Regions from separate parts of the Homo sapiens genome. Here regions 2, 3 and 4 are each linked to region 1. Evidence: fine-mapped expression QTL. A gene starts in region 1. Each other region holds a variant in brackets. All regions are shown on one strand. Distances are from middle to middle.

The links. PIP is the estimated chance that this variant, and not a neighbour inherited with it, causes the effect.
Region 2: its variant is fine-mapped to the expression of TNFSF8 in whole blood (INTERVAL, PIP above 0.99).
Region 3: its variant is fine-mapped to the expression of TNFSF8 in whole blood (TOPMed, PIP 0.97).
Region 4: its variant is fine-mapped to the expression of TNFSF8 in whole blood (TOPMed, PIP above 0.99).

Annotation. Positions count from the first base shown.
Region 1 is chr9:114,925,763-114,933,870 of GRCh38, forward strand. It overlaps TNFSF8 (TNF superfamily member 8), which reads right to left and starts at 4,829. Exons shown (of 4, transcript NM_001244.4): 1 at 4,347-4,829. The coding sequence starts at 4,541. RefSeq lists an enhancer at 3,923-4,482.
Region 2 is chr9:114,877,845-114,885,952 of GRCh38, forward strand. No RefSeq gene overlaps it. Among named protein-coding and RNA genes, the nearest start is that of TNFSF8, 49 kb to the right of the region's middle. RefSeq lists a silencer at 2,485-2,779. The variant A/G (reference allele first, on the strand shown) is at 4,891.
Region 3 is chr9:114,954,545-114,962,652 of GRCh38, forward strand. No RefSeq gene overlaps it. Among named protein-coding and RNA genes, the nearest start is that of TNFSF8, 28 kb to the left of the region's middle. The variant G/C (reference allele first, on the strand shown) is at 3,773.
Region 4 is chr9:114,978,613-114,986,720 of GRCh38, forward strand. No RefSeq gene overlaps it. Among named protein-coding and RNA genes, the nearest start is that of TNFSF8, 52 kb to the left of the region's middle. The variant G/C (reference allele first, on the strand shown) is at 3,070.

The DNA of each region.
Region 1 (8,108 bases):
TACCGATTGTGAACCCTATACTCCAACCTTTTGGAATGTAACCCTTTACATTCTCCCCTGGGGCTAGAGAAGCCCAGTCTCCTGGTTTACAAAACAAAGACGTCTCTAAGGTTGAGGGCTTCAGAGGCTTTTTGAAATGTAAACACCTACCTGTGGTGTTAACCTAGGAGTCTATCTCATTGTCTATCTCATTATGTATTCCCCTGTCTCTTGAGGAGATAAGAGAAGTTTTATTTTTTCTTCTTTTGCTTTGCTAGATTAATTGTGTGAAATTTCATCCTGACTTTGTAGTCTGTTGCAGGCTGCCTATTTGCATGTACAATTGTGCTTGCTCAACAGTAAATCATTTTTTTCTTTCCATATTGATGTAAAGAAGTGTCTGTTGGTAGGACTTTTAATTCCTCAGGGGTACACTAGTACAATCTCTTTGGAGACAGACTGACATTTATTGAAGCGAAAATGCACATTCCTCCTGGCTAACACGGTGAAACCCCGTCTCTACTAAAAATACAAAAAAATTAGCCAGGCGTGGTGGCGGGCACCTGTAGTTCCAGCTACTCGGGAGACTGAGGCAGGAGAATGGGGGGAATCCGGGAGGCGGAGCTTGCAGTGAGCAGAGATCGCGCCACTGCACTCCAGCCTGGGCGACAGAGCGAGACTGTCTCCAAAAAAAGAAAAAAAGAAAATGCACATTCCATTCCTATCACTAAAAATTTATTCCCCAGATATACTTGCAGACACGCACAGAGGGCACAAATTCTAGAGAAAACATTGATGTCTCTCACCAGGCACAGATAAATTATGAAGCATTTACACTTCGTACTATGCGACTCTTCAAAAGAATGAAATGAACTTCTATGTACTGACATGGAAGGATCTCTAAGATATACAGTGTGTTGTCAAGTGAATAAAGCAAGATGCAAAATTATGGGTTTATTATAATGACCCATGGGTTTATTATATATTATAATGTGTACTGTGTATTTGTAGATGCACAGATTTTTGGAAGGACACACAAGAATCTGTCAATGGTGGTTATCTCCGTGAAGAGGGATTAGTGGTTGGGTGGGGAAGGTGTGAAGATTTTTACTTTCTTTTCTCTTATTTGCTAGTTACTTTTCTTAAACCATGTAAGTATAGTATTTCCTAATATAAATATTATAAAATATATCAATATATTATAAAATATTAAATAACATAAAATATTATTTTATAATATAATATTTATAATATAAAATGTTTATTTTATAATATATTTATAACATAAAATGTTTATTTTATAATATATTTATAATATAAAATGTTTATTTTATAATATATTTATAATATAAAATGTTTATTTTATAATATAAAGTAATATTATTATATAAAATAGTATTTATTTTATAAATATGCTGGCTTAAATGTAAATAAAACAAAATACAACCACCACTGAGGCTTCAAAAATATCACAGGAAAGAAGTAAGTTCCATAGTAACTCAAAGACAGGGATTTTGTTGTTTTTTTTCAAGGCTTTAGAACAATGTCCTGCACACAGTAGATATTTAATAAATATTTGAGATAGAAACCTAAGTTCCTCCTTTGTCTCTCCCAAGGAGTTTAAGCTTGGAGTTATCTGATCTTCAAGTCAAACCTCAAGGCAAGCTTTGTTGATTTCCCTACACTTTCTCTGTCTTCTCTCCTCTGTCTCTTTGCTCATGCTGTTCCATTGGCTAGGAGTGCCTCTCCTCTGCTTTCCCTTCCCTGCCTGTTTGAAATTGTTCACATTTCTCAAGCCAACCTGAAACTAATCCCCAGGAGTTTTTCTTAAACCTGTCTGGAAAAATATATTCTCTCCTTAACTTGTGGTGTCATGGTATCCCTTTAATCACTCATTATATGTTATGACTTAGCTGTTTTAAATTTTGTCTATACACGTGCCTTGGGATAAGAATTGTGTGACTTCTTGTGCCAGTAAAACCATTCTTATGGTTCTCCACCCCTGTTCCCATCACATACAGAGTGCTAATTGACCATTAACTCATTCCATTTTTAATAATGGTGATGTGAGTCTAAGCTCCTTGGCTTTCTCCCATTGATTTCTTTCCTAGAGTTTCTTTTAGAGTCTCTTCACTTGTCTGAGTTCTTCCTGTTTTCAAGTCAGTCTACATTCCATCTTCCTATAGGAAACCCTTCCTGATAACTCAAGTTAATGGGAAAATGATGCTTTTTTTTTTCTTGTTAGGTCTTACAACAGTTAAGGTCTGAGGAATTTATTGAAAATGATATGTGCAATGCATTTGACACTTTATATACCACGGCTACTATTAACATGGCAAGCCTTAATTTTAAGGAAGCAACTGATATTTCCTGGTCTAAGAAATCACAGCACACCGCACTGTACAATCAGATTGCACAGTGAATCTTTTCATATCCAAACATGAGGGGTAAGTCAAGGAAGTGGATGCACAAGAAGATAAAGCTCCCAAGAGAAGAGTGGGTGCAATGTTTCTTAGTGCTTCTGTGGCTGTCTGTATTGGCAAAGGGGATGCTGCTTGCATCAAGCAATCAAGCAGTATTGGCTCTACCACTTTCTCAGGGTGACGTAGTTCAAGCCCTGTTCCCTCTCTGCTCCTCATTTTCCACATTTACAAAAATGAGGCAGAAAGATCTGCTCTGGTTCTTTTATAGAAGAAATCAATTCAACTAAAAGTTGGATATGAATGAGCTCTGAAGTTCTCTCTAGCTTTATATATCACCATCGCCACCCATTTTTCCACCATCTCTCTCTCTCTCTCAGCAGTTCTAGTTGGATCCTTTAACTAAAGAACTTCTTAAAGGACACTTCAATTTCTTTTCTTTGGCCATTGCTATAAAATGACATACCCTTGGTTCACTCCAAATTAGAATTACAGAAATTGCAGAGCCCCTGCAGAAGAAAAGATGTCCTAAAGTGTTTTCAAGATTATTATACTTAATAGATGTAGATAAGCCATTAAATTATGAGTTTTAAGAATTCCACTATCTAAATCAAATATTTGCAACTCCTTCTTTTCACTTTTGTAGAGATATGAGCTTCAAAGCTTCCATTTAATTTCAAAGCTTGATGACACTTGAGAAATAGATATCAAAGCCTTTTAAAGCCTAGTTCTTTCCAGCAATTGATAAGCTATAGAGTACTTGGCCTAAGAAAACTGAAGAAAAACCAGAATAAATTCAGCAGGATTATAATACCACGAAAAGTAGGCACTATGAAGTAAGAAACAGAAATATTCTCACTTTGGCAGGTCATGTGGGTGGGTGCAGCTCTTAAATTACCCATTAACAACTTCATCAAAAAATTCATGAGCAATATATGCTATTACTACAGCATTTTCTATATAATATATACTGGTAGATTCTCTGTAAACACCAATTTTCTAAAATATGAAGAAGCTTCCTCTTTCTCCTCCTCTTCTGTTTTCAGAAACAAATCTTACCATTTACTTCAAAGTAAATCTCCGAAGACAGTCTGACCCTGTACAGTGTGTACCCAACGATTGCTTAGTATTGTGAGGAACATCAGAGAGAACAGGTGCTAAAAACCTTTCAACTTTCTGCTTCTATGTGCTGTTTCTTTTTTTTTTTTTTTTGTGACGCCCTAACTTCTTCAAAGTTGTGGCTTAAGAGGAAGCTTTCGATTTGTCTTGCTGGCTTTAACACCAAAATGTCCAAAGCTCTAAGAAGCCATGGTCTTCTCTTTCGCCTCCTTTCCTTCTAGACCTTGGCCTCTGAAACTTAGCTCCTTGTATAAAACAAAAGCAAAAACAAAACTCTTGGCAATGGGTGAGGCCTCAGAAACCTCCAGGACACTCAGACTTAGGATATAGAACCTCAGAATCCAGTCTGAAGTCCTTGAAGACATGATAACAACTTGTGCAAATGTGTTATCAGGTTTCTCTATTGCTTCCTTCCTTGATATGGGTCTCTGGCTCATTAAGATTTAAATCTTAACTTTAAAAGGCCAATAGCTCCCCTCCACTGTTTTGCTCAGACAGATCTGCAAAGTTTTAAGATGATGGTCTAACAATATTTTTCTCAACAAGCCAAATTATTTTAGAGAGTTAAGTTCCTCTTTCTTTTCTCCCTTTCTCATATATATATATATATATAATATATACTGTATAATATAATATATATTATGTAACATAAGTGTATTACGTTATACAGTATATACTATAGTATATATATATATATAGAGAGAGAGAGTTTATTTATTTAATTTTATTTTGTGCTCTTAACCAACAAACGAATATCATTTGTTCCCAGGGCTCTTTCTCTCGGGAAAACAACAAGAAAAGGAAAGGGAGGAAGAGGAGTCCACTTACCGTCCTCTGAACGACCAACACCATAATAGTGGCCACCGTGAAGACAAGGCACAGAGCCAGAGTGGCTGTGGTCAAATAGAAATAGCTGCGGCTCGTGGTCCCCAGGTGGCTGGCCACGGAGCCCGCCGGCACATGCATGGCTGTGTCTCCAGGAGGGGCCATTCCGTTGAGTGCTTGCTGCAGCCCTGGGTCCATTCTTTATATAGTCTTCCCCACATCACACCTTATCTCTCTTCATCTGATTCAGTTCTGGGCCCATCTCTGTTCCAAGAAGGATTCTCCCCCTGAATCCTGAATCATGTGACTTGGAAAAAAACCTTCACCTGCTGCCTGGTGGAGAAACTCTTCTCTGGGGGCGTGAGGCGAGAGGCGGCAGCAAGGGTGGGGGAGAGGTTCATTTTTCATTGCCAGGGATTAAGTTGTGTGCAGAGAAACTAGCTACAGAGAAGGTGGCTGATGTCAGAGGGCGCGTAGGAAAATGACGGTTCCCCGACTGTGTGTGTGTATGTGTGTGTGTGTGTGTGTGTGTGTGCATGCGTGCGCACACACAAAGCAACTTCTGTTTCGTTTAGACTCTGCCACAAAACGCCTTCCTGTTCAAGAAGCTGCACCTTCTTTCAGCGAGGCCTGTGGCTCAGAAGACCTCCCCAGATAATGAGTCCTTGCTGGGTCTCAGGGAGGCCGGATCCCTCGGACTGCAGTGTAATAACTCCAAAGGGTTCGGTTTGATAGGCTACTGCTGAAAAAGGGACATGCTGCAGGTTCCCTGGGGGAAAAAGGGCACACAAATGGAGATATTTCTCCAAAGGGGGACTGGCTCATGGCAGTATGAAATTTGGGGTTCAAAGATACTGTCAGAAAGCAGGAATCTGGAAATATCAATCTTTTGAACAAACACTCCTGCAGAAGTTTTGGGATCTGTTAAACTGGCAGATGAACCTGGACCTGCCGTAAAACTCATGAAGAGGGGAAGGAATTGGCAGTGAGATGGTGTGGTGTGGAATATGGGGGCTGTGTGTGTTCTGCGTGGTGTACTATGTAGTGTGTGTGTATTTGTGGTATGGGGGTATGTGTAGGTGTTGTGTGTTCTCTATGGTATATGTATGCAGTGTGTGTGTGGTGTGCATTTGTGATCTGCAATGCATGCCGAGTGTGGTGCGTATGTAAGTGTTGTGTGTGGTGTGTATGTATGTGTTGTGTGTGGTGTGTTGTGTCTTGTGTATGTATGTGTTGTGTGTGTATGTGACTACTATAATTGAACCTCTACTGTCTCAGGCACAGCGCTAGGAGTTACATGTGGCTTCATTCCACTTCCACCTCCACCCTCCGAGGCAGGCAATGTTTATTTTTTACAGATGGGAAAACTGAGGCTCAGGGAGGATGAAAACTATCTCAACCTAAGTCGCAAGTGTCGATCACTGAAAGAACTTGGGTGCACTTTGCAGCCTGCCTGGCTGAAAGCTCGTGCTAAGTCATTCAATCTTCACTGCACCTGAAAGCTAAAACCTGAAGTGTGGTCTCAGCCCTTTCCCTTCTTAGCCTTGGGCCATCATACAAGTCTTTATGGCTTTCTCTGTTCCCAATCTGCATTACAGTCATCAGGAAGACCAAGCGAGATGATGTCAGAGTACTCCATGAATAAAAATAGATTTGGGGATGGTGTTGGACAATTCCTGTTAAACATCCCAAGCTGTCTACTGGGCTAAGTCTGGAATTTAGATACAATAGACAGATTACCTGGGGGACAGAGTCAGATCACATCTGTGGTTACTAATGATCTCCATTTCAAAATACCGTTTAAAATGTTAATCACTGCATAGCTGCTGCCTCCAGATGTGGGCCTTTGAAAGCTCCATTTGGTATCACCGTGGAAGAAGCTCATTCTGCATAGCACCTCCTTTCCTTTCTGCTCACTTTTTGTCTGCAGCGCATCACTTTGAGCCAGCAGAGATCCCAGATGCCCCTAAGGAAACGTCCTGTGTCTAAAGCCAAGCTTGGATTATTACCACTGCTGTTCTTGCATAGAACCAAAACTTCTGAGCATCTCCCAAATTAGATCAGGCTTTAGGATTTGGTCTGGATATTTCCTCCCAGTGAGTCTGTAAAAGCATAGATCCTGGAGACGAAAGAGACATCAAGAGATAAATTGTTTTCTTGGGCTAAATAGAGTGGGGGGCGATATACCCATTTTACAATCAAGGAAACCGAGGCCCCCGTGATCCCAATTGAGTTTGGTTTTGAAAACAGTGTGTTCACGTTCGTTTGGTCCGGTAATTAAGGTGGGAACGAGGCAAGCCAGTGTTTTCTGGGGCATGTACCTGGCTGATTTGGGGAGAAGGCTGTGTCCTCTGGTGGGCACGGACAGTGAGTGGGTAGCAAGGGCTCTGTGGTCTGCCCAGAGTTGCTGAGAACCAGCTGCTCCCTTGGCCCTCTTGTTCAGCCTCTTTGATCAAAGTGGAAAACTTCTGATTGTTGAATGGAAGCTGTGGGTGTTGAAAAATAAAAAGGCTTTGCTTGAAGTTCGGGTCTTCCTGAAGGCCTGTGGGGCTGAGAAGGGCAGTGGAAAAAAATGTTTGTCTTACAGTTACCCGTTTTGCATACAATACAATGTCCTGGGAGGGAAGGCTGACAAGGGGGAAAAATCACCCTTTGTTTTTACTCAACTTTCTGAGCAGTTGAGATTTTCGGATCAGTTCCTAGTACAGTAGTTTGTGGGCTCAATTCATTCTTTTGCTGTGACACTCCTCTACTCACAAACCTTCAGTGGCTCCCTATTTCCCACCCCCATTGCTCTAAGCCCCTCTCTGCTTTCCAGCTGTTCTAGAATCTAGCCTGGCCAACATAGAAATCCATGACCTGTGCTAACTGGCTTCTTTCTGTCTTCTACTCAAGCTGTACGATGTGCAGATGGAAGGAGCCTTTATAGAATTTCTTGTTGAGTAAGTTTTAAATCCTTTCTGGAAGCAAAGCTGTATAAGGAATATAAAAACATAAGAAAACAGGGCTGCTTTGGCTGAAGCACAGGTGGGACAAAGAGAAGGGCTAAGCTTCACCTGCTCATTTGCCCTTTTCTGGCATGGGGTCTCTCCAAGGTGAATAAAATTTAGAAACTTCAGAAAATTTGGCTTGAATCCTTCATTCCACAAAAGGAGGAAACTGGGACACAGAAATGGGAACAACTAAAGGAAGTACATACCATCAGGGAGAGAGACAGGTGTAAGAGTCCCTTCTGCTCATTCTCTCTCCTTTTTTTTTTTTTTTTTTTTTTTTGACTGAGTCTCGCCCTGTCACCCAGGTTGGAGTGTAATGGCGCAATCTCGGCTCACTGCAACCTCTGCCTCCTAGGTTCAAGTGATTCTCCTGCCTCAGCCTCCTGAGTTGCTGGGATTACAGGCACACACCCCTAGGCCTGGCTATTTTTTTTTTTTTTTAATCTTTTGTAGAGATAGGGTTTCACCATGTTGGCCAGGCTGGTCTTGAACTCCTGACCTCGTAATCTGCCTGTCTCGGCCTCCCAAAGTGCTGGGATTACAGGCATGAGCTACCGCACCCAACCCCCTCTGCTTGCCCGGCCCTCTCTGCTCATTCTCATGTCGGCTCTGCTAATATTCCAGGTGCATCCAGGCTTCCTCTCGTGTTTTACTTGGCTTTCCACTGCTCCTGTTCTTCCTCTCCCTTCCAGCCTTTGCCAACCCGCCTCACCATCTCCAGGAATGCTTGCCCAGATCTCTCAAGTCCACCAACACCCTCTCTGGAATGCCT
Region 2 (8,108 bases), 48 kb before region 1:
TTCAATTCTAATAATTTTCTCTATTTTTCATATTGTCTACTCCTCCTTGGCTGTTATTTTAGCTTTCTTTACTCATGTGCATTGGTTTCTGGCTCTCTTACTGATTTCTTAGCCCTTTGTTTCTGGATTTTAAATGATCGTAGGATACCCTAATTTGTCCACTTCAATGATTCATTTAACTAATATTTAAAGTCCTCCTCTTAAGTGTCAATGTTGAGCTAGGTTCTGGGGATTCCAGATATAGTGAGAGAGTTGTGGGTCCTAGAGTATGTAAGAGAGAATAGAGAAGAGAGGAGGAGAGAGAGAGAGGAAGAGAAAGCAAGACCAACCAATAAACCAACATAATCCAATTTTTTATTTTAAGATGATTCTTCTTGGTGTGTCAAAAATACACCAGGGGTGAGGGAGGAGGCAGCAAGAAAGAGATAAGAACAGGTGGGAGCCTATTCCAGCAATACAGGTGAGAATGATGGTGTGGATTACAGTGTTAGCAGTAGAGATGATTCAAGAGAGGAAAAATGAGACAGCATATTAGGTAGTACAAGCCACTTACTGGTTGCCTAGATGCTGGATATTAGTGAAAGGGAGATTTCTGGTTTGATCAACTGAATCGATGGTGATAAAAGTTACTGCAGAAACCCAGAAGAACCGAGGTAAGTGGGGGAAGATGTTAAAATAATGAGTTTTGGGCATTTAAAATTGGCAATATCAGAAAAAAATGTTAAATAGTTTTTTTTTGACAGAGTCTTGCTCTGTTGCCCAGGCTGGAGTGCAGCGCTGCAAACTTGGCTCACTGCAACCTCTGCCCGCTGGGTTCAAGCAATCCTCATGACTTTTCCTCCTGAGTAACTGGGACTACAGGTGCACACCAACATACCTGGTTAATTTTTGTATTTTTGGTAGAGACAGGGTTTCACTATGTTGGCTTTGTATTTTTGGTAGAGACAGGGTTTCACTATGTTGGCTAGGCTGGTCTCGAACTCCTCACCTCAAGTGGTCCTCCCACCTCAGCCTCCCAAAGTGCTGGGATTACAGGCACAAGCCACTGTACCCTGCCAGAAAGTGTTAAATAGTTGAATTAGGAAGATTGGAGCTCAGAGGAGTTATCTGGACTGGAGATGTAAGTTTGGCAGTTGATATGGTTAGGCTATGTGTCCCTTGCCAAATCTCATCTTGAATTGTAGTTCCCATAGTCCCTATATGTCATGGGAGGGACCTGGTGGGAGCTAATTGAATCATGGGGGTGTTTACCCCCACACTGCTGTTCTCATGATAGTGTGTTAATTCTCACCAGACTTGGTGGTTTTATAAGGGGCTTTCCCCCCTTTTGCTCATTCTTCTCTTCCCGCTGCCATGTGAAGAAAGATGTGTTTGCTTTCCCTTCCACCATAGTTGTAAGTTTCCTGAGGCCTCCCCAGCCATGCTGAACTGCAAGTCAATCAAATGTCTGTCCTTTATAAATTACCCAGTCACAGATATGTCTTTATTAGCAGTGTGATAATGGACTAATGCAGCAGTTACAGCCGATAGATGGCACTGGAAGCCATGATCATAGAAGAGATAATGGAAGAAAAAATCCTCCCAAGAACGCTAAGTTCAGGTAGATGAGGAGGAAATGGCCAGGTAACTAAGAAAGGTGTCCTAGCGAGGTGGTATATGCAAGCCCAGAGAAAAGCATGTGCTAGGCACTGTGACAGACACTGGGAGGCTGAGTAAAACAAAGACCAAGTGATGTCCATTGGATTTGAAAACATGAGGTTTGTTGATGGATGATTGTAACAAGATCAGTTTCCACTGGGTGTGGAGGTGGAAGGCAGAGCAGAGAGCATCATTGAGAATAAAAGGATGATGCTGAAGTTCTCTTCTGTGTTATGCTTCTAGTTTTATTCTGCTGCGCCCACCATAGTGGCAACCTCTGTTGTGCATTTTGTGTGTGTCTTTTTAAAATTTATCAAAAAATACACAGGTAAATATCCAATTCCTTCTCTATTTTTTAATTTTCTAGAATAACATAGTAAGTAAAAGAGGAATAAGGTGAAGTGAGAATTTACACATATTGTGTAGATATATTTCTTGGTGAGTTTGGCTGTGAGTAAGGGATAGAGAGATGGTACAGAAACTGGAGGGGTGAAGATTTGCCTTTTCAAAAAGGTAGGCAGTAGAGCATGTTTGCTTGCTGATGGGAGTGGTTTTGTAGGGAGAAAGGAAGGACTGACTCTATTCCAGGAGAGAACATAACTAAGGAGGTACAGTCTTTTAGAAGGCAGGGATGAATTCATGGGATGGAATTCAGTGCCCAAGAGGAGAGTTGGCCTTCATTAGGCCTGGGGACACATCCTCCACCATAACAGGTTAAAAAGAAGAGAAGGTGAGTACAGATATTGTAAGCTTGAGCATGGGTGGTGAGAAGCTCAGAGTTTGCTTCTGGTGAATTCTGTTTTTTTCTTAAGTATGAGGAAAGAAATGATATATGTAGGAGGAGATGTGGGAGAGAGAAGTTATTCACCTTGGGGAGTGGGAAGGTGATCCTGTCAGAGAAAGATGATCAGCTCTCTGTGCAGTGGTAAAGCCCTACTAATTCTTGGGATCACCACATTAACAAGAAACCCATCATCTCAGTTGTGCAATTGTTTCCTCTAGCAACATACAGCTGCTTGGGGTCAGCCTCAAGGAGGAAGATGTCTGGTGTTTGCAGGAAAGTATGATGAAGGAGGATATGAGTGAATGAGTTGGTAGGATTTGCCAGGAAGTAACTGAAATGATTATTCATGAAATCTAGGATGAACAAGAGGGAAGAGAAGTCAGGAGAGCCATGAGAAAATTGTGGGGACAGGAGGATGACGTCAAAGATTTGTGGTGGGAGTGGTGGGGCTGTTCTGCAGCATGTGATCTGGACTGATGGAAGGTGGTGGTCAGGGAGTGGGATGTTTAAGCTGACATTTCACAGGTGATATTGTTTCTGCTGATGAGAAGATTCAAGCTGTGACTGTCGGAGTGGGCAGATGAGATAGAGTGGAGGAAAAGGTGGAATGGGAATGGCAACACCAGGGTGCTGGATGTTGAGACCAGTGATGATAATGACAGGAGTTGGGGTGGACAGAAAACTGAGCCAAGAGTTCAGGTTGTCAGGATTAGGGGTTGTGGTCGGGATGTCAGTAGTTTATAGCAACAATGAGAGGCTGTGAGTTTGCAAGAGCTTGAGTGTTTTATAAGAGCAAGGGGGAGAGATAGTATATACGGAAGAAGAAATGCAGAGCACAGACAGCTACCCCATCTCAAGACTATGAGGTTGTGAGTTATGAGAAAACAAACAACCTTCCTTTTGAGAGGGCTACAGGAGAAATGCTGTCTCAGAGAACAGCCAGATTTCAACTAAGGCAAAATATGTAAAAAGAACTTACTAAGAAAAGGGTGGAAATTTAGGGTGTTTGCTGATCCCAGAGCAGGCATCCAGAGGGTTACAGTGAGAGGATTTGTGGGGCAGGAGTTGGGTTAGGTTAGAGTTAGGTTAGAGAATGTTACAAAGCACCATGAAGATGTGAGTCCCCTTACTCAATGTTTTCACTGTAGAACCAAGCTTACAAACTAGACTAACTCATGGGTAACTGGCCATTCTGTAGGATTGGTTAGGAGTAATCTGTTTCTGGTCAAATTCTCTAAAAGTCAGGCCGTGATGATGTGAATATAGAGTGTGGCTTTCTATGCTTAGGAAGTTACCCAGAACTATTTCCCTCAGCAAGGGTTGTGGACAGGGCAGGTACTCCTAGGGCAAATGAATTCCTGTGCAAAATGTAACCAGTTCCAACCCCTTTTCAAAGCAGAATTTTTCTCTATGGCATGGTCAGTATCTTGTGTTTAAACATATTTAATTAATGTGACATTATTAGTAGAGTCTAGTTCATATTAGTGTTGGCAATTATCAGCATAAATGTATTATTATGTTATCTTAAAAAGGCCATATAAAATGTCAATAAAACACCATTTCTCCCTTTAGATTAGCAAAAGTAATAAAGATTGGTAGCATCCATTGCTGGTGAAGGTGTGGGAAATGGATTCCACTATATACTACTGGATGGGTACTGAATTGTTTCAAAATTGTGGAGAATAATTTGTGACATCTGTTACAATTTCAAATGCCCATATCCACTGACACTGAATTCCACTTTGAGAAATCTAATCTACAAAAAATTCTCATTGTATTTTAGGTGCATAAAGTTATATTTTGGGGAATGCTGATTGTAGTACTGTCGAAATAGCAAAAAATTGAGAATAGCCTGCTTGTCTATCAATGGAGGAATGGTTTTAGAATTATGTCTTTTTACCAAGAAATGCTAGACAGCCAAGAATTTGATGCACGACAATTATGGTAAAAAAATTTGCTTGTTCTACAGAAGATCATTAATGTTTTGTGACTATATAAGCTGTAACAGTGGATTGTTTTCATGTGTAGGTGCTATTGTTAAATACAGGGACTGTTTCCAGGTACAGAATATGAATCATAAGTTTGGGTGGGCCGGGCACGGTGGCTCACTCCTGTAATCCCAGCACTTTGGGAGGCCAAGGCGGGCGTATCACGAGGTCAGGAGATCGAGACCATCCTGGCTAACATGGTGAAACCTCATCTCTATTAAAAATATGAAAAAATTAGCCAGGCATGGTGGCGGGCACCTGTAGTCCCAGCTACCCAGGAGGCTGAGGCAGGAGAATGGCATGAACCTGGGAGATGGAGCTTGCAGTAAGCCGAGATGGTGCCACTGCACTCCAGCCTGGGCGACAGAGCAAGACTCTGTCTCAAAAAAAAAAAAAAAAAAAAAATTTACGATGGACATTGGATACGATTGTGATGAAGGTCTGCGGTCCTAGAGCTACAGATGCATGGTAAGAAATTAG[A/G]ACAAACTGGAGATGGGCCATGGACTCTGCCTAGGAGTGTTAGGAAAATACTTTGACTCCAAGCCTTAAAATACTCACATGGAGTTGGCGCTCACCTCATTCACACAATCATAGAGCTCCCTGGACACTGAACCTCTAAAGGGAAAAGGTCTACCTTGGAGCAGGAGCATCAGGGTTTGCTTGGGAGCATGAGAGTCGAGCTCAGGGCTAGGCCTGGGCCAGGCCCCGGCAGCACTGCTACTTGGGAGGAGCCACTTCACTTTCGTATTAGTTATTAAAAATAGAATTTAGGCCTGGCACGGTGGCTCAAACGTGTAATCCCAGCACTTTGGGAGTCTGACGCGGGCGGATCACTTGAGGTCAGGAGTTTGAGACCACCCTGGCCAATATGGTGAAACCCCATCTCTACTAAAAATACAACAAAATTAGCCGGGCCTGGTGGCACGTGCCTGTAATCCCAGCTACTTGCGAGGCTGAGGCAGGAGAATAGCTTGAACCCCGGGAGGCAGAGGTTGCAATGAGCCCAGATCACGCCACTGCACCCCAGCCTGGGCAGCAGGATGAGACTCCGTCTCAAAAAAACAAAAACAGAAACAAAAACAAAAAACATAGAATTTGGATCCTTCGGTCAGGTTCTCCGAAATTCTTTTGAGGTGTCCATGGTCAACTGCTTCAGCTTTGTTTTGGTAACCCCCTGTCTGAAGTTGCATACAGGCTGTTCTTCACCTTGTTTCCAAGGCTGAGGAACAGAAAGTAGCCTCTGTTTTGAAGAGGTGGAAGTTAAGTATACATTTATTTTTTACTGTGACTTGTTCAGGACCACATTTTACAAAATGCCTTGTTTCCTTTATTGTTTTTGCAAAGGAAAGTTCTATTAATATTGTTTTACTTTGAATATAGAATAGTCTTTTAAATTAGGGCTTATTTTGAAAAATTCTGACTTTAATTCAAATGTATGCCAATACCTTCCAAAGTAAGGTAATATTCAGAGACAGTTGTTTTGCTCAGAAGCTACAAATATTATTCTACCCATCTTTTTTGTTGACATATGACCTCACTTCTACAAATATGCCTCGGAGTAGCATGGTTGGATCATAAGGCAAGCATATGTTTAGCTTTAGTAGGTATTGCCAAACAGGTTTCCAAAATGATTGTAACACTTTCACTTCCTCCAGCAATATATGAGGTTTCCAGTTGCTTCACTTCCTCACCAACACTTGATATTGTCAGTCATCTCAATTTTAGTAACTTGGTGGGTGTGTAGTAGTTTTAATTTGGTGGTTATATGGCTTTAATTTGCATTTCCCTGATGACTAATGATACCATCAGGGAATCATTAGCTACTGGACATATGGATAGTGTGTTTTTTGAAGTCCTATTCAATTGTTTTGCTCATTTTAAAATTAGGTTGATTTGTCTTTTTAATTGATTTATAGGAATTTTTATACATAATATTGTGAATATGACTCCTTTGTCACAGAGCAAAGTTTTTTCCAATCTGTGGCTTTTCTACTCACTTTCATAATGGTGTCCTTTGATGAGCAGAAGGTCTTAATTGTAGTGAATAGCATTTCATTACTTTTATGGTTTGTGTCTTTCATATTCTGTATAAAATATTTTATCTATTTCAATATTATGAAAGTACTCTCCTATACTTTATCTCAGAAGCTTTATTGTCATGCTGTTTACATTTATATCTGTAATCTATCTCAAATTAATTTTTATGTATGGTGTAAGGTGGGGGAGTCAAAGTTGATTTGTTTTACAGATATAATTATTCCAACAGCATTTATTAAAAAGGGCATTGTTTCTACACTGAGACTTTTGTCACAATTCAGATGATAATACCTGTGTTGATTTATTCCATTGACTATATTTTCTATTCTTATGCTAACACCCACAGTATTTTGATTACCTTTGCTATATAGTTAAGTTGACATCTGATAGTAATGTTACTGGCAGTGAACCCATGTAGGTCTATAGAATCCTCAATTCTTGCCTCCTCAGAAGAAAGAATTCAACAGAGGAGCACAAGGCAGGAGAGACTGAGGAAAGTTTTAGAGCAAGAGTAAAAGTTTATTAAGAAACTTTAGAGCAGGAATGAAAGGAAGGAAAGACAGTACACTTGGAAGAGGACCAAGCGGGCGACTTGAAAGACAAGTGTGCGGTTTGACTTTTTGACGTTGTTTTACTTTGGCATACTTTGGTTTTATGTTTAACTTTGGCTTTATATGTTGGCATACTTCCGGGGTCTTGCGTCACTTCTCCTTTGATTCTTCCCTTGGGTTGGGCTGTCTGCATGCACATGCTTGAGTCCACTTTCCCAACTCCAGGAAGCTGCTGATCACTAGTTTCAGGTGTTTTCTATGTAGCAGGAGATGGCCTTTCCCTGGCACTGGCTGTGACCAATTATTATTTTAGAGAGACAGTTAACAACGGCCTGACCATTACTGACCATTACCTGATTGTCACCTGACATTCCTGATGTGTGTGACAGGAGGTGGGGGGGGAGTGTGAAGTCGGAGAGAGCCCTCTTCTACCCTGCTTATGCCTGATGAGCTACCTACTATAACAGTAAGACTTGCAATTTGCTCATTTTCTTCAAACCTATTTTGGCTATCCTAGGTTCTTTGTATTTCCAAATAGATTTTACAAACATTTTGTCATTTTCCATACAAAAAAACCTGTAGTGATTTTAACTGTGATAACATTGATTCCATGGATCAATTTGGGGAGGATTTACATTATTTTATATTTAATCTTCCAACTCATGTGTGTGCCATCTCTCTCCACTAGGTCTCTACTTTCTCTCAGCAATATTGTATAATTTTCAGTGTAGAGGGTTTTACATTTTTCATCAGATATATTCCTAGGTATGTGATATTTTTGAGTGCTATTGTAAATGGTTTATTTTTCTAAATTTTATTTTCTAGTTGTTTGTTGATAGTATAAGAAATAGAATTAAGCAAATAACACAGGAACAGAAAACGAAATACCACAAATTTTTACTTATAAGTAGGAGCTAAACATTGAGTCCACATTGACACAAAAAAAGGGAACAATGGGCACTGGGGCCTACTTGAAGGTGGAGGGTGGGAGGAGAGTGAGGATCTAAAAACTACCTTTGCCTAGTACCTGGGTGATAAAACGATCTTTGCACCAAACCCTCATGACATGCAATTTACCTGCATAAAAAACCTGCACATGTACCTCTGAAA
Region 3 (8,108 bases), 29 kb after region 1:
CATGCTGAAGGTTTATAATGAAAACAGCAGTGCTCTGCCTATGAATCTCTACCTCACTTGGTCCTGCTCTCCAGAGAAATCACTTGGAACTGTGCTAGCTGTCTCTTCTAATACATGCCTCAGTATTTCTAGCAAATATGCTTATATTGTTATATATTGATTTATTAATATTAGACTTCTACTGATTTTCTGCTATAAAAGGAAAATTTAGATCTTCTATACATCTCTTCATTTCTCCTCTTGCTTTAATATTCATTTCACAATTTTTGGATAAATCCAAATCATTGTTTATGTTTTTATGATTATACAAAAATTATTTGCAGAGTCCAAGTAGTATACTAGGATCATATATTTTCTTGTCCAACTTTATTCTTCCTAAAATTGCCTGTTTACCTCCAGTTGGTGTTGTTTGTTCTACATTTATTTTTATCTTTTTTTCACCCATTCCATCAGATCACTAATTAGTTTTTCCTTTTAAATCAGGCGTTGGCAAACTCTTTCTATAAAAGATCATATAGTAAATATTTTTAGACTTTTTGGTCCAGACAGCCTCTGTTGCAACTACTCAACTCAGCTGTTAAAGTCATGGGCAATATGCAACTGAGCTGCAGACAATATGTAAATGAAGGGGGGCAGCTGGCCATGTTCCAAAAAACCTTTATTTACAAAAGCAGGTGGTAGGCAGGATTTGGTCCACGGACTGCAGTTTGTCAACTCCTAATCAAAATGATAAAATAGACCAGATATTATTTTTTTGTAATGCTTTACTTTCCCAAAGCCCTGTCCTAGAGCCCCCTTGCCTGCGTTGCTATCTGTACTGCTGGTTCTCTTTGTGTCCTACCCTGCTGGCATCCTGGAACTTCCCCCCACTGTTTTCCTGTTTTAGACCCCTTGTTTTTTGGACCTCCGCACTTCCTCTTTCTTGTTTCATTCCTTGGTTTAGCTGGAGGATATTCTCAAGTAACCTCCTAAAAAAGAGGGTGTAAAAGGGAGGTAAATTTTCCGAGTCTTTCTATGTCTGGAAATGTCTATATGTTCCTCTTATGTCTTTTGATAGCTTAGCTAAGTAATGTATTCCAGATAAAATATTTTGTCAGAATTTTGAAGGCTTTCTTCAGTTATTTTCTGACTTCTAGCATTTCTGGCAGATGACTGATTGCCATTCTGATTCCTGTTTGTATATGATCTTGATCTTCTTCTCTCCTTGCCCTCAACCCTTTGTCTGAGAGGTTTTAGGAACATGTCTTTATCCCTGGAGTTCTGAAATGCATGATCATGTACCCTGGCGTGATCATTTTCAATCTCATGTCTCACTTGTGTCCCAGTCTGTGTCTGATGTACGTGAGTCTGGAATTTCTTCAAAAGATTTCTCCAGATGCTAGCTTTCCTATCTTCTGTCTGTGGGGTTGCCATCAGGCTCTGTGGGGCCAAGGGAGGGAATCTACCAATTTAACTCTTCCTGCATTCAAATGTGCGGCCTCATATCTTGCTCCTTGCCTCTGTGGGCATCAGGTCTCTAAGAGCCACACTTTGCAGGTATGTGTAGGGTTCATGAGAATGATTATGTTCAACATTCTCCTCTCCAGGCTTGTTAAGTTGAAGTTTTCTCAACTTTTCAACAAAGTTGATTATTACTCATGTATCTATTCCCTGTCTTTCAAAATTTGATTAAAATTTGTTGTTCATTTATACCTTAAAATAATTTTTGGTTCATTTTATTGGGAGAAGAAAAAGATATAACTGCTTATGACCTATCTGTTGTGTTTAACCAAAGTTCACAATTTGTCTCTATGTATGTGTTTTTTCTTTTTTTTGAAATGAAGTCTCACTCTGTCACCCTGGCTGGAGTGCGGTAGTGCAATCTTGGCTCACTGCAACATCCAGTTCCCAGGTTCAAGCAGTTCTCATGCCTTAACCTCCCAAGTAGCTGAGACTACAGGCACCCACCACCACACCTGAATAATTTTTGTATTTTTAGTAGAAACGGGACTTTGCCATGTTGGCCAGGCTGTCTCGAACTCCTAACCTCAAGTAATCTGGCCTGCCTTGGCCTCCCAGAATGCTGGGATTACAGGCATGAGCAACCACACCCAGCCTATGTATGTGTTTAGTGGTCTAAAGCCTGTCTGCTTTCCTGCTAGGAAGAGGCTGTGTCTGTTTATTCACCCACTGTATCCATCACACCTGGCTCCAAGTGGGTATTCTACACATATTTGACAAATGAGGGACTACATATTGAGTGAAATGGTTTGAGGAAGAGGCCTCAGGTGGGAGCCCAAGGAGACGATGCTGGGAGACACTGATCCTGTTTTATGAAGAGCCTTGAGTACTCAGGGCAAGGAGAGTGAATTTTTTCCTGGTTGGGAGCTTGTTAGTATTTTTTCAGTGGTGGGAGAGGTGGTGATGGTAGGGTATTTTGATCAAAGCAATTTCAGAAATAACTTTTCTGGTTGTGGTATGAAGGCTAGTTTGAAAAGGGTACACATGTAGGAAATAAGATGCTATGAACCGACGAGAGCTTTTGAGAAAGGAAGAGTGGGACTGCAGAAAGTTTAGAGAAGAAAAATCAATAGGACTTTGGTTCTGATTTAATATAGGAGGTTAAAGGTGATTCTCAAAAACGCTTCCATCCAGGCATGGTGGCTGACACCTGTACTCCCAGCTCTTTGGGAGGCCAAGGTGGGCAGATTGCCTGAGCCCAGGAGTTAGAGACCAGCCTGGGCAACATGGTGAAATCCTATCTCTACAAAAAATACTGGTTAAGGACATGGTGGCAGGTGCCTGCAGTCCCAGCTACTTGGGAGGCTGAGGTGGCAAAGTCACTTGAGCCTGGGGAGGTGGAGGCTGCAGTGAGCAGTGATCACACCACTGCACTCCAGCCTGGACAGCAGAGTGAAACCCCATCTCAAAAGCAAAATAGAACAAAACATGATGGTTGTCTTAGCAGAAAGAAAGAATATGAAAGATTTTGGGGGGATGGGGAAGAATAGATAATGGTTTTCATTTGTCATACTTGAGGCAATAAAGGAACGTCCAAGTGGAAATGTTTAGCAGGCAGTTGGCTATATTAGAGGTGGGAAATGAAAACAGGTTAGAGAGTTGTTCTCGCAGAGTAATTCAAGAAGAGAATGACATGAAGAAAGATGATTACTTGCTTAAGGTCATAAAACTGATAATTGGCAGGGCCCACACTGGAAGTCAGATCTGGCTAAACTCATGCCTCATGTTCAACCACAATAGTGTTCTGACTCTACAACTTTGTTGAGATGCAGCCAGAAGAACAGAGACTTAGCACTGGCCTTGGGGAATACTCACATTTAACAAGGCAAATGACTTCTTAAGAATGAAGGTGCAAAATGCAATCGAAAGCTAATGAGGTATGAGGGGAGAATACTGATGCTCCAAGAATGCCCTAAAATCTGGACAGGAGGGTAGGAACTGGTACCTTGGGCCAGGCAGCTTGGCTAGGCCCATTTGGCTTTAGCGAGGGCTGAAGTCTCCCACAGGCGCCTCCTGCTTTCACTCTGAGGACTTCTCCAAGACCATCAGTTGCACTTTCTTTTCATACACTTTCCATTCTGCCCACTGCTATGGTTCAAGCCAGAGAAAACTGTGGCCAAGTAGCAATTCTGAGAACATAAGCACGGCTGACATCCTGCCTGGTTTCTTCCACTCTTGCTCAGCCCAGAGCAGCCTGAGAGAATTTTGGTGAAGTGGTGTTTGGGGATTTTCAGAAGTGCCCTTGCAGGGAAGGGCTCCTGGGCTCTTCTCT[G/C]CCCTAGACCCCCTCCCTGTCGCATGCCTTCGGGTTCATGGCATGGGCTGGGGGAGGAAGAGGAAGCAGATGCCATGAGAGTGGGGGCGTGGGCATGTAGGTTGTGAAACAATATGAGAAACCTCCAGAGCCAGCAAAGAAAGTTTTATTTTTGGAATTTGGAATTCAAAGTTTTTCACACTCAACATTTCTGTGACTAGCAGGTGAGATAAAAATCTATGTCATTCCACTGGTTTTCACCTTTGTTTTAAATTATCTGATTTTAAACAGAAATTATTATCAGTCTGATATTGTTTCCTTTTCTAAAATGTGGTTTAATTTCGTAAAGAGCCGAGTAGGACGGCAGAGCTGAATCATAGGAAATGTCAGCATGCAAGCTCTACACCCATGATTACAAAACGGTGTTCTAGTAACCTTGGTGCTCTCCTTGAAAAAGCGTTCCTTAATCCTAGGTTTTTGTTTTCAACTAGGCAAATTTTCTCTTTGTTTGTTCTACCATATGATGTCTTTAATTTCATGCGAGAGAACTAATCATGGATCCTGAGTTTGAATCCTACTTTCTCCTCTTCCTTCCTGGGTAACAGTGGGACAGTTACATAACCTCTGAGCCTTAGTTGTCTCCCTATAAATGCAAATAAGAAGATGGACGACACACACACACACACACACACACACACACACACAGACACACACACACAACTGGCACTTAGTAGGTGCTGAAATCTTCTTACTTCCTATCATTGAACAAGATTGGATAATTTTTTTTTTCTTTTGGCGGTCACTGACTCACCAAAGAAAAAAGAAAAAATATCAATTTACTGTATGTTGTTAAATCAGGAGAGACAATTGTGGGTGTTTGTGTTTTGGATCTTATTTTTAGACATTACAAAAATGTTCCATGCACTGGATTTTGAAATTAAGAATGAGGAAACATTATTTATATCTGAATCATAAATTACAACAAACGAAAATATTACACGTATGATTTCAGTTCTATATTACAGGTATTTAAAGGGAAGGGAGAGAGGGAAAAGGAAGGGAAGGAAAAAAGGGGAGGTAGCAAACATACAAAATTGGCAGAGATATGAAAGACATGGCAAAGGTAAGAGACAGTGGATGTAGGTGCCATTGTTTGCAGATAAATATTTTTGGTTTTCCCCTAATTAATACTTGATCTATGGGTGCTAGAGTTATGTATTTGCTGCTGTAACTTCTCTTTGAAACCCATCTATTCATCCATTCATTTATCTGCCCCCCTTTCATTACTGTTTGATTTAATAAACAACTACTCAATATATCCTTTGTGTTTGGCCCTTTCCTAGGTGCTAGCAAGGCAAGAAATCAAGCCAACCTTGCTTTCCCAGAGCTCATAGTCTTGCAGGAGAGACAGACAAGTAAACAAATAGCAGCAGAGAATAATAAGTGACTGACTTGGATTTGGGGTGGTGGAAAGTCTTCATAGAGGAGGCAATTCTATGCTAAGACAGTGTGGTGGGTAGTTAAGAGCACGGATGTTACAGGCAGATAGATATGGGTTTAATCCTGATTTACTAGTTGTGTGGCCTTGGTCAAGCTGTTTAACCTGAGTCCTCACTTCGTATTTAAAAGGAGGATAAAACACAGAAACATAAAGTTTAGGCAAATTGTGAATAATACACATAAAAGCTTTGTATGTTGCTAGGCACATGATAGACCCTAAAATTGAAACCATGATTTTCATTTCAAGGTACGGGATCTTTAGTTTATTAGAGTCTTAGAGGCACTCTGGGAAAGTTGGATGGGGTTGAGAGAACGTGTCTCTGTGGAAAAAAATGGGTTATGTACTATTACTGACTTTTCAACATTTCTGTTGAAACTTTTTGAAAACTTTTCTGAATCACAGTAGCTTAAGTATCAATGTTGAAACTTTGCTTTGGGGTGCATTCCCCTCTGTATTTCCTAAGGTTGGAAGAAATCAAACCAAGGGTGGGCGATTGACTATCTTTATCGTAGATTACCTCTTGGTTAAAAGACCCTAAAGCATTAACTCCTGAGATTAACTCTAAAGCATTAACTTCCAAAGCTCTTTGGAAGGCCATCAGCAACACCTGCAGTGCAAAGCTGTTGTCAAGCCTGTAATTATGAGTAGCACCAAGGGTACCAAATGGTGACGATATTCTAGATCTGGTTTCACTCTCTTAGCACAGACACTCATATACAGGATGTAGAGAAAGCAAGTAAAACCCTAAGATTAAAATAGAAATGGAAAGTAATCATTTTTTAACAAAGACCACTCTGAAGTTAGCTGTTTCTTCCACAGGAATAACATTAATCACTAGGGGATAGAAGTGTAATTCATATCAACTCATTGGCTCTCCAGTTTATAGTTGTTTCTTCTCATGTAATGGCCCCTGTAACGCAGTGGCCAGATTTCCTCGTTGTCCTTGTGCCCATGGCCACAGTTGATTCTAAGGCAGTTGTTCTCAAACAGGAGTGTGCATCAGAATCTCCTTGTTACAATAGAGTTCTGGATCCCATCACCAGTGTGTCTGACGCAGCAGGTCTAGGGTGGAGCTTGAGAAGTTTCATTTCAATAAGTTCCCAGGTAATGCTGATGCTGCTTATCTAGGGAGTGAGCCTTGAGAACCACTGACCTAGGAGAAGGTAACTGAGCTCTCTGTGTTCTTCCAGTGCACCCACCACCTTCCATCCTCATTCCAACCCCACTTTTCACATGTTTTCCAGGTATATTTTCCATTGGTTACAAATACAATAATTTTAATAAGTACTGGAGGGGAGCTTGTCTACAGCCTGGAGAAGAAAGGGAATCAAAGTGTGAGGGGAACATCAAGGTGTTCTCTAACATCAGAAATCTGTGTGTCAAAACAAGAATAGGAGGTAGATCTTTTCAACCTGCCAATTTTCCCTCCCTCAAAGGAAGACATTTTTAACAATTTTTAAATGTCTGAAAATAGGCAGCTTTTGGTTAAAGATGATATATTAAACAAATTCATTTATCCTTGCACCTTCTTAAATAACAACACAATGCTAGCAGCTAAACTTTTGGCATAGTGTGCAGCATAAACCCTCAAGGACAAAAAGAAGGGTAGAAGGGATGATAAGAATATTGAAAATAAGAAAGCAGATAGGCAACTGTTCCAACTGGCTTCTGTAGACCTGGGAATTCTGAGCTGTAAGCAGCAGAAGCTGGAGAGCGAGGGGATTTGCACACCAGAGCCCCAGAAAAGTTCTGGATTCTGGAACTTCTGAATGAGGTAAAATTGGGCCTAAAAGGAGGAGTGACTGAGAATCTGTATAAAGAGCAAGAGAACTTCTAGGTCCACCCTACCCACTACATCAGGTGATGTCTTCTCCTTTGCCCTGGCATGTAGCTGGAGGTTTACTCTCAGAAGGCAGTGAATCAGAAGAGCTCTGGACTGGTGGACACCAGGCACAGTTGGAAGAAGGGGTACTTTATAGAAAATGGTTGGGGGATTAAATGAAAGTCAACTTATGGAAACTTTACACTTTAGTCTTCTTCCCAACTTGAGCTCCCAGAATGTTGGCCTCCAAGTGTATGCCTTCCAGATTAGTAGCATAATGCTGCGATTTTAGAAGGTACAATCTTCTAACAATCTGTAGCTATTTTCACAAAAAGATTGAGGGAGAATGGAAGGGGTTTGTGGTGCAAGAGAGGCCTGCAGAGGATGTCCAAGCTGAGTTTAAAGTCAGCCATATTTACTGAGCAACTATTCTGTTCCAAATAACAAGCTGTGAGCTCAGATGATTCCCCAATAAGAAAGATTCAGTGTGCCCATCCCTCATTGAATTAGATGGGAAGGTTGGAGGAAGGAACAGTGCATACAGAGGGAGATGGTGGAGAAAAGACATGCTGAGTTTGTGGAACAACAAACAGTTCAGTATTGTTGGCATGGAAAGTATAGATGTGTAGGGAGTATGGGAGGGAGGGAGGGAGGCCTGAAAGATGCTGCTTTGCTTATGTCCCTCTCTTTCTTTGTATGTGTTCTGTCACAATGCATATTATTTTATATGCATCTATTTTGAATCTTCATAAATGTAATCCATTCTCATTTTTAACTTTTTTCATCAACGGCATTTTTTTTTTTTTTAGATGGAGTTTCACTCTTGTCACCCAGGCTGGAGTGCAGTGACACGTTCTTGGTTCACTGCAACATCTGCCTCCCGGGTTCAAGCGATTCTCCCACCTCAGCCTCCCCAGTAGCTGGGATTACAGGCGCCTATCGGGGGAACCCACCCCCAATATTTCAACGTAGGTTCTTTCTATTTTCCATAAGTGTCGGCTGGCTGAGAAATAAAGAGTAAGAGTACAAAGAGA
Region 4 (8,108 bases), 53 kb after region 1:
AACAATTAGTTAAGCACAATAATTTATCTCTTTGAGGTATGGTCCTTGGGGCTCTGCAGAGCTCTCTCTGGAACATGACATTGAATCCCACTTATCCGAGTGAGTTAGGAAATAGAAACATATCCAGGTAAAGAAGACAAGGATGGAGTCCATGCTACATAAAGACCAGTGGAAGGTACTAAGGGCTGGCCAGAGAAGAGATGACTACAGATGGGCAAGGTCATTGTTTTTGTGTGTTTGAGGACTGTCTTGGAGAAGAGGGGATACAGTCGTTGTGTAACAATCCAAACCAGTGTATCTTAGGCACTGTATTTTAGGCTGTGTTCTGAGAGCTGGAGAAATAGGTGATGCAGTTCTTCTGCAACAGAGGATTTAAGGAAGCATTCCAATGTGGTCTAGTGTGGGCTATAATGAAGATTTGGAGGAGGAGCTCTAGGAAAACAAAGGGGCAAGTGAACTACTCTGCCTGGGGAAGTTGCAGTACATTTTATGGTATAACAGAATTTTTCTAGTTTTAGAAAGGTGACAAAGAATTCTAGGCAGGGCAGAAACAGCAACGTATACAAAAGTGAGAGGCATGAAAAGGAGGTTACAAAGGGCAGAAGATGCAAACAAGGCTGGAGATTTGGTGGTCTCCAAAGTGTAAAGAGTCTTGAATTCCATGTTAAAACATTTGGACCTATGCTATGGACATATTCTATAGAAAGTATCCATCTTGTGATGGAACTAGGTCCAATGATAGAAGATACAGCAATTGCCTTGGGAGATAATGACTGTCCATCAAACAGAGGCCAGTAAGCCCTTTGATGGGTATAGACTGAAGAGAAACAACCACATAACAGGGCATTTGTCTGGACTTTGTGATCTCACCCACCCTCTGGGAAATGTCCCAGACTTAGCTTTTCAGGAGGTATATTTGTGTATTTCCCTCTGCGAAAGACAGAGCCTGGAGGTACTATATATTTTTGCTTTCTAAGTTAGAGAACTTTTTAATATCTTGACAGCTTATACCAGAATTCATCTGTGAAGTGTATCTAAGTCTGCTTGGGCTGTTGTCACAGAATATCACAGACTGGTAGCTCATAAACAACGAACAGTGATTTCTCACAGTTTTGGAGGCTAAGAAGCCCAGGATCAAGTTGCTGGAAGATTTGGTGTCTGGTGAGGGCCTGCTTCCTCATTCATGGACTGCTGTCTTCTCACTGCATCCTCACATGGTGGATGTAGCAAGGGAGTTCACTGGGGTCTCTTTTATAAGGACACTACTCTCATGCATGAGGGTTCTACCCTAACGATCTAATAATCACCTTCTAAAGGCCCTACATGCAAATACTATCACACTGCAGATTTGGGTTCAACATATGAATTTGGGGAGGGGGCACTAACATCTACTGACATTAGGATGTAGTAGAAGGAGTCCTTCTTATTTGAAAGATCATATGTGAAGCCTCTCTGAGTAGCAGGTAAGACCCCAAAGGGGTTGTCAGGAGTTCAAGCAAAAGGAAAGCTATAGCTAAGCTGTCCAACCTGAGAATATAAGAGGAGTTAAGAGATATATGGGGAATAGGAGAGGTCAGTGGTTTACAAGGGGATGAGAGAAGGAGGGACTAGAAAGATGGTCTATGGCTGAGGACTCCACAGGGTAAACAGAGGTAGAGCTTTACAACAATATGCATTGTTGTGCAAGTTGCCTTTGCTCAACTGGTTGGCTGAGGCAGCTGGCTGGGTTTGCAATTAAACCAGTGTCCTGATCCCTAAGTCGTATTTTCTGGGTCTGCACTTGAAGGAGGTGTCCCTATGGCCTAGTAGTGACCCTGGGAAGAGCATCTTATGGAATTGCCTTATGATAAGGTGGTTGTTATGGATTGAATATTTGTGTCCACCTCAAATTCACATATTGAAATACTAATTCCCAATGTGATGGTATTTGGTGGCGGGACCTTTGAGGGGTAGAGAAGGTTAGATGAGGTCATGAAGATGGGGCCCTTATGATGGGATGAGTGCCCTTATAAAATAAGGAGGGAACACAAGATCTCTGTCTGTCTCTGCATGTGAAGATACAATGAGAAAGTAGCTGTCTGCAAACCAGGAAGAGTGTCCTCATCAGATACCAGCTTTGCTGGTACCTTGATTTTGGACTTCCTAGCTTCCATAACTGTAAGAAAATGAGTGTTTGCTGTTTATGCCATCCAGTCTATAGTAATTTGCTATGGCAGCCCAAACTAAGACAGTGGCCAAAGGAGGGCTTCACAAGGGGGATGCCTAATGTCCAATTTGAAGTTGTTGTGATATAATAATCCTTTTTCTAGCTACTAAATAAATCTTCAAGTAAGTGCACTATACTTATTAGCTCTTTGTGCAAGATGAGTGTATGGGTGTGTAGAAATTGAAGAAAGGCGGGGTTTCTCGTCTGGATTGTAGCCATGTGGACAAAACAGCATTTGCAGAATCAGAAACCTAGATTTGGAGACATCAGAATACAAATCCCCCATGCTCCCGTCTCCCCTTTTTCTTTCCCAGAAATCTGCAGGCTTTGGTCTTCCATGAAGCATGGAGTTGATCGTTTGAGCCAGCCTTATCTGGATTTTAAAGGGCAGGGAGGTAGCAAGTGACATCAGGATTACATTTTATTGTTTTAGTGCCTCCAGCGAGATGTCATGAATAAGTTTATTTTATGACTGTGTGTCTCTCGCTTAAGTAAGCTAATATTGCATCATGGGTAGTTTACACAAATCATTGTTTTAAGGATGCAGTTCAAAACAAAAATATATGAGCAAACTGAAATTCTTATCTCTAAGATCCAAAGGATAATAGTTCATTTATGCATCACATCTTCTGGAATGTATTTTTATAGACTGTAAATTGGATAAGATAGCTGAGTGCAATGCATGGTAGGGAAGGATAAATAATAAGAAGCTTTAGGTTCAAGACCCAGCTCATGCTAAGTTGCTGTGTGAATTTAGGTAATTGTAGTCCTCTCTGATATATAATTATCCTGTAATGTTGGAGTGTTGAACAAAAACGACCTCCAGGATCTGTATTAATTAAGACTAAATTAGTTGTATTAAA[G/C]GAAGATGGAAACGTCCTTCTTCCTCATGTAGAGGTCTCAAGATAGGCTATAGGTGTCTCTACTCCAAGAAATCCTCCAGGGTCCAGGATCCTTTATATTTTTCCTAAAGCAGGAAAACATACAAAGCCAAGCAAAATATCTAATGATTAAATATGTAACCTGGAAGCTGCACATAGTACTTCAGCTCACATTCCCTTGGCCTTAAGTTTGTCACATGGGCTCACCCAATCTGCAAGGTAGATTAGGAAATACAGAAATAGAGTCTATATTCTTAGCTGATATACGTTGCCAGCTAAAAACTGGGGTTCCGTGATTCCGAGAGAAGAGGATAATGGGTATTGTAGAACAATTAGAAGTTTCTGCCACAGGTTCCTTCCAGAACTAACAGTTTAAGATTCTAGGTGTTGTCAACAGTTTTGATGATCAGATATCAAATTACTCTCCATCTTTAGGGCCCTTTCTGCTGGATGATGGTTGAGATGACTTGATCACAGAATTAGCAAGTAGTTTAGACCAGTGCTGTCCAATAGAAACATAATATAAGCCACACAGAAATTAAAAAAAAAAATTCTAGTAGCCACAGTAAATAAAGGAAAAAGGAGCAGCTAAAATGAATTTTAACAATTAATTTTATTTCATCTAATCATGTAAACACTATTAACAAGTTATTTTACATTTATTTTTTCATACTGAGTCCTTGAAGTTTATTTTGTAGTGTACATTACAGCACATCTCAACTTGAACTAGCTGCATTTTCAGTGTTCAGTAACTCCACATGTCTAGTGACCACCCTGTAAGACAGTAAATTTGTAGACTGTGTTGGCTAGAATGATAGCAACACAGTGTACACCATAAATTTTTCTATTATAAAGGGAATCCACTAGTTAATTAATTTAGATTTAACTCCATATTATAATATTCATTAATATGAAAGAGAGCATCATCTTTTCACCTGAGGCTTTTCTATGAATAAGTTAACTATGGACTATTCGCTTTCTGGATCATCAGATCCAGCTAGTCAAGTCAGATCATCTATCCAACTAGTCAAATTGGATAGAAGCTGTTGGAGTCCAGCTCTGCCACTTACCAGCTCTGTCATCAGAAGTAAGCTGCCTAACTCTTCTGAGCCCAATTTTCTTTATCTATGAAAATGTCACATGTTAAAGTATTTTTTATCTGTATTTTTTGGAAGCTGGACTCAGCAGAAATAGCACTGGATAAAGAATAAAGAATTTGGATTTTAGGTTCAACTTTCCCCTGGTTCTGTGAAACTAGCAGCATCTTCTCTTTAGATCTTACTTTTTCCATTTTGAAAGGTGGGGTGGTATGTTAGGTGCTTATCAATTCCTCTTCCCTCTTTTCAAATGGAATCATTTGACGTTATACTAAAAGGTTCAGATTTCTAGGATATCATTAGGGAGGTAATTGCTTTCTCAACTTTCAACTACTCTTAATAATTCCATAAAAGGGAGAATTGGAATCTGGAAGGCTGAGGCAGCCATAGTAGCACAATATTTCTGAATTGATGCATTCTTTGGAAGAAAGAGTGGGAAGGATCAGGTAGAAAAATCTTTTATGGTAGTGACTGGTCCCTTAGCATAAACATTGAAAAAAAAATCCCAAGGACCCTCTATCAATTCTGTTGGAAATGTATATTGGGGAGTCTTTCTGAAAACGGATTTGGCAACATATATCAAAAGATAGAAAACATATATGTCCTTTCATGTAACGATTTTATGTCTAAGAATTTAAGGAAACAACCTGATGTTCACAAAGATGTATTGATAAGTGTTCATTGCTCTACGGCTGACAACATCAGAAAATCAGAAACACTCTGCCTGCAAAAAATAAGGACTTAGTTAAAAAGTTATGGTACAGGCATACATGAAGATATTATTAAACCATTAAAAGCCATGTTTTCAAAAAATATTTAATGATGTAGGCAAATGCTTTACTACAGTATTGACCATAAAACATCACTAATAATATGATGTACTCAGTCATATGGTCGGTCCCAGACTTCTTTTTAAGTTGGCCCCTTCCCAGGGGGTCCCCTCATGGTTCCTAACTTTATTTCTTGCCCTCTGGTCCCTGTTTCTCCTTTCCCTCTTCAAATGTCCTCGGAGTGAAACTTCATTTTCTTACAGGTCAGAGTCTCTTACCTTGATTTTTTTGATATTTTAGCCTGGATAATTCTATGTTGCAGGGGTGGTGGTCTGTCCTGTGCTATGTAAGATGTTGAACAGCACTCCTAAGCTATGTGAATTAGATGTCAGAAGCACCTTTTCCCGGTGAAGATAACCAAAAATGTCCCCAGACATTGCCAAATGTTTTCTTGGGGCTCAGTCACTCCTCCACGCTGCTACTGAGTTTGGTGGTTGTTTAAATTTGGTGATCAGGGACTAGGAACCAAGGTCCAATATGACTTTACCATTTGTTCCAGAAAATTCTTGCCCAGGAAGATAAAGCTGTAAACCAGTAAATAACTTCATTGTTAACCTCAGGCACTTCATGAAAACCCATTTATTCTGCCCAGGCCAATTGGATGCTCATCTGGGTAGACATCATCTCTCTTAAGACAACAGGTTGCCCAGCTGGAAAAACCCTCTTGCTTTATCAAACATCCATTTACTTAGGAAGACTACCTCCAAGCCTCTAGCCTCTCAGTGTCCACCAATCCTAAGATATCAGATGACAAAACCTGCCTGCAACACTGGAATCCAGACCCCCAAACCCTGGACCTCCTCTTTCTAAGACAAACTAAAACTTGTTCAAGGCAGTACTCTCCCATATTTGGTCAGTAAAAACTGGTCTTTGCTGATAAACAGTGGTCTATCTGGGGAATTGGCAGTCCCCCAGAGCCTTTCCCCTTTATTTATTTATTTATTTATTTTTTTTTTTGAGATGGAGTCTTGCTCTTGTCACTCAGGCTGGAGTGCAATGGCATGATCTCGGCTCACTGCAACCTCCGCCTCCCGGGTTCAAGCAATTCTCCTGCCTCAGCCTCCCAAGTAACTGGGATTACAGGCGCCCGCCACCAAGCCCAGCTAAATTTTGTATTTTTAGTAGAGACAGGGTTTCACCATGCTAGCCAGGCTGGTCTTGAACTTCTGACCTTGAGATCTGCCTGCCTCCACTTCCCAAAGTGCTGGGATTGCAGGCGTGAGCTACCGCGCCCAACAGCCTTTCCACTTTTAAAGAAGGGAACACAATTATAAAGCCCTCAACCCATGATGCCCACAAAAACCAGGAAGAAATTTTGAAACAGCCACTTTTCTGCATCTAAGGCCACATAAGATTCCTAGGCATGGTGTCCCCACACTGCACTCCATAAGTAGAAAGGAAGCCGCATGAGGATTTGTGTTCCTCCTGCCCACGGAGTGTGAGCATGTGTGGAAGAGGGTTAGGACCACAAGCTTCATAAGCACAGGAAGAAGAAAAGCACAGAAACACACCCACGCAAATACACACATACATACATATATAAACATAGATATATACACACATACACATAAGGTGGAATTATGGGTGATTTCATTTTTATATTTTTCCATATTTAAAATTTTTTCTTAATGAACACGTCTTCCTGTTAATAATTACTCTTCTAATCTTAGATGAAATAATATGTTAATATAATCCTATCTTGGAATATATCGGGAGGTCCAGTATATTGGCTTTGAGGAAGTGCCAAAGAGGTGGAAGGCTGAGTCCTTGGGATCTTCCTTTTTTCTACACGGCTCGGGAGACTGGTAGCAAACTCCGCTACAGAGTTGGGAGTGTATCATTTGTACCAAGTGTTAATTTGAAGTGTGAAAGGAAAAGATTATAATTACCTGTCCTTTTAAACTTATGTTTTCTTTAATAATCTCATGGTTACTAAGAAATACACTCAGCAGTGAGATGGGATGGATAAGCTAAGGTGTATATGACAGGAAACGATGTCCAGGCAGCAAAATTAGTCGTGCAGTTGTATGCTCACAGGCATCGATGGATGTCTAAGCTGAGTAAGTCCTTGATACAATAGGTCAGTTTAGTGATGAACCCTCTGGGTTTCACCTTGACACTACCACATGCTAATTTTGTGACCATGAGCAAAATGCATCACCTTTTGACTGCAGTTTCTTCACCTGCAAAGGTAAGAGACTTGTACCTGCTCAGTGAACCCCATGAGTTTGTTACAAAGACCAAAAGAGATGATCCATATATACATGCTTAGGAAGTAGTTCAAATGCATGGCTTTATGGGAATACCTCTCAATTTTTCAAGCACCTCTCTGATATTAACATAGATTATGATAAACAGCCCACATCCAATTTAAATGCTGGGGCTGTTAAGCTCTATGGAGTGCTTGAGGCAGAGGTGTAGGTATTTGGGGATCTCCACCTTATCTTGGGGCACCCTGCCCTGGCATGGCACCAGAGACCTGGCTACAGGCCCCTAGCTTACAGCCTGGTTCCCCCAGGGCTGAGTGCAATACCTAGGAGGAATGTTTAGGAATGCCTGCCACAGCTGCCCACCATCTCTTATTAACATTTCATGCCTAGCGTGTAAAACTCAAATTGAATTTTCCAGGGTGGAGTCAAGGAATTAAAGGAATGAGGAGCAGCAGATAGACAGATAAGCACATCTCATGCTTCCATCCATTATTTATTTATTGGGTGCACACCATTTTCTAGTAAATATTATCTCGTTTACTAGATGTTATCTCATTTACTAATACTCAGAGAAACACAAGTGAAGGTCTATGTGATTGTAGCCATTTACAAGCTCCATGAATGTGACCTAGGTCACAGAGCTCATCAATAGCAGAGCAAGAATTCACACCCAACTGTGTAAATTCCATACTGCCTTACCCTATCTATCTGACATTTGGGATTTGTATATTCGCCACAGTGGAGTAGCACAACATTAAGTAGTAGATTTTCTACTCTATTCTTTATATCAACTACAGGTGGCCAGAGGGCAGAGGACAAAGGAGGCAAAAAGAAATGGGAATGTTAATATTTAGTGGTCTTATTCGTTCCCCCCAAGCAGAGTA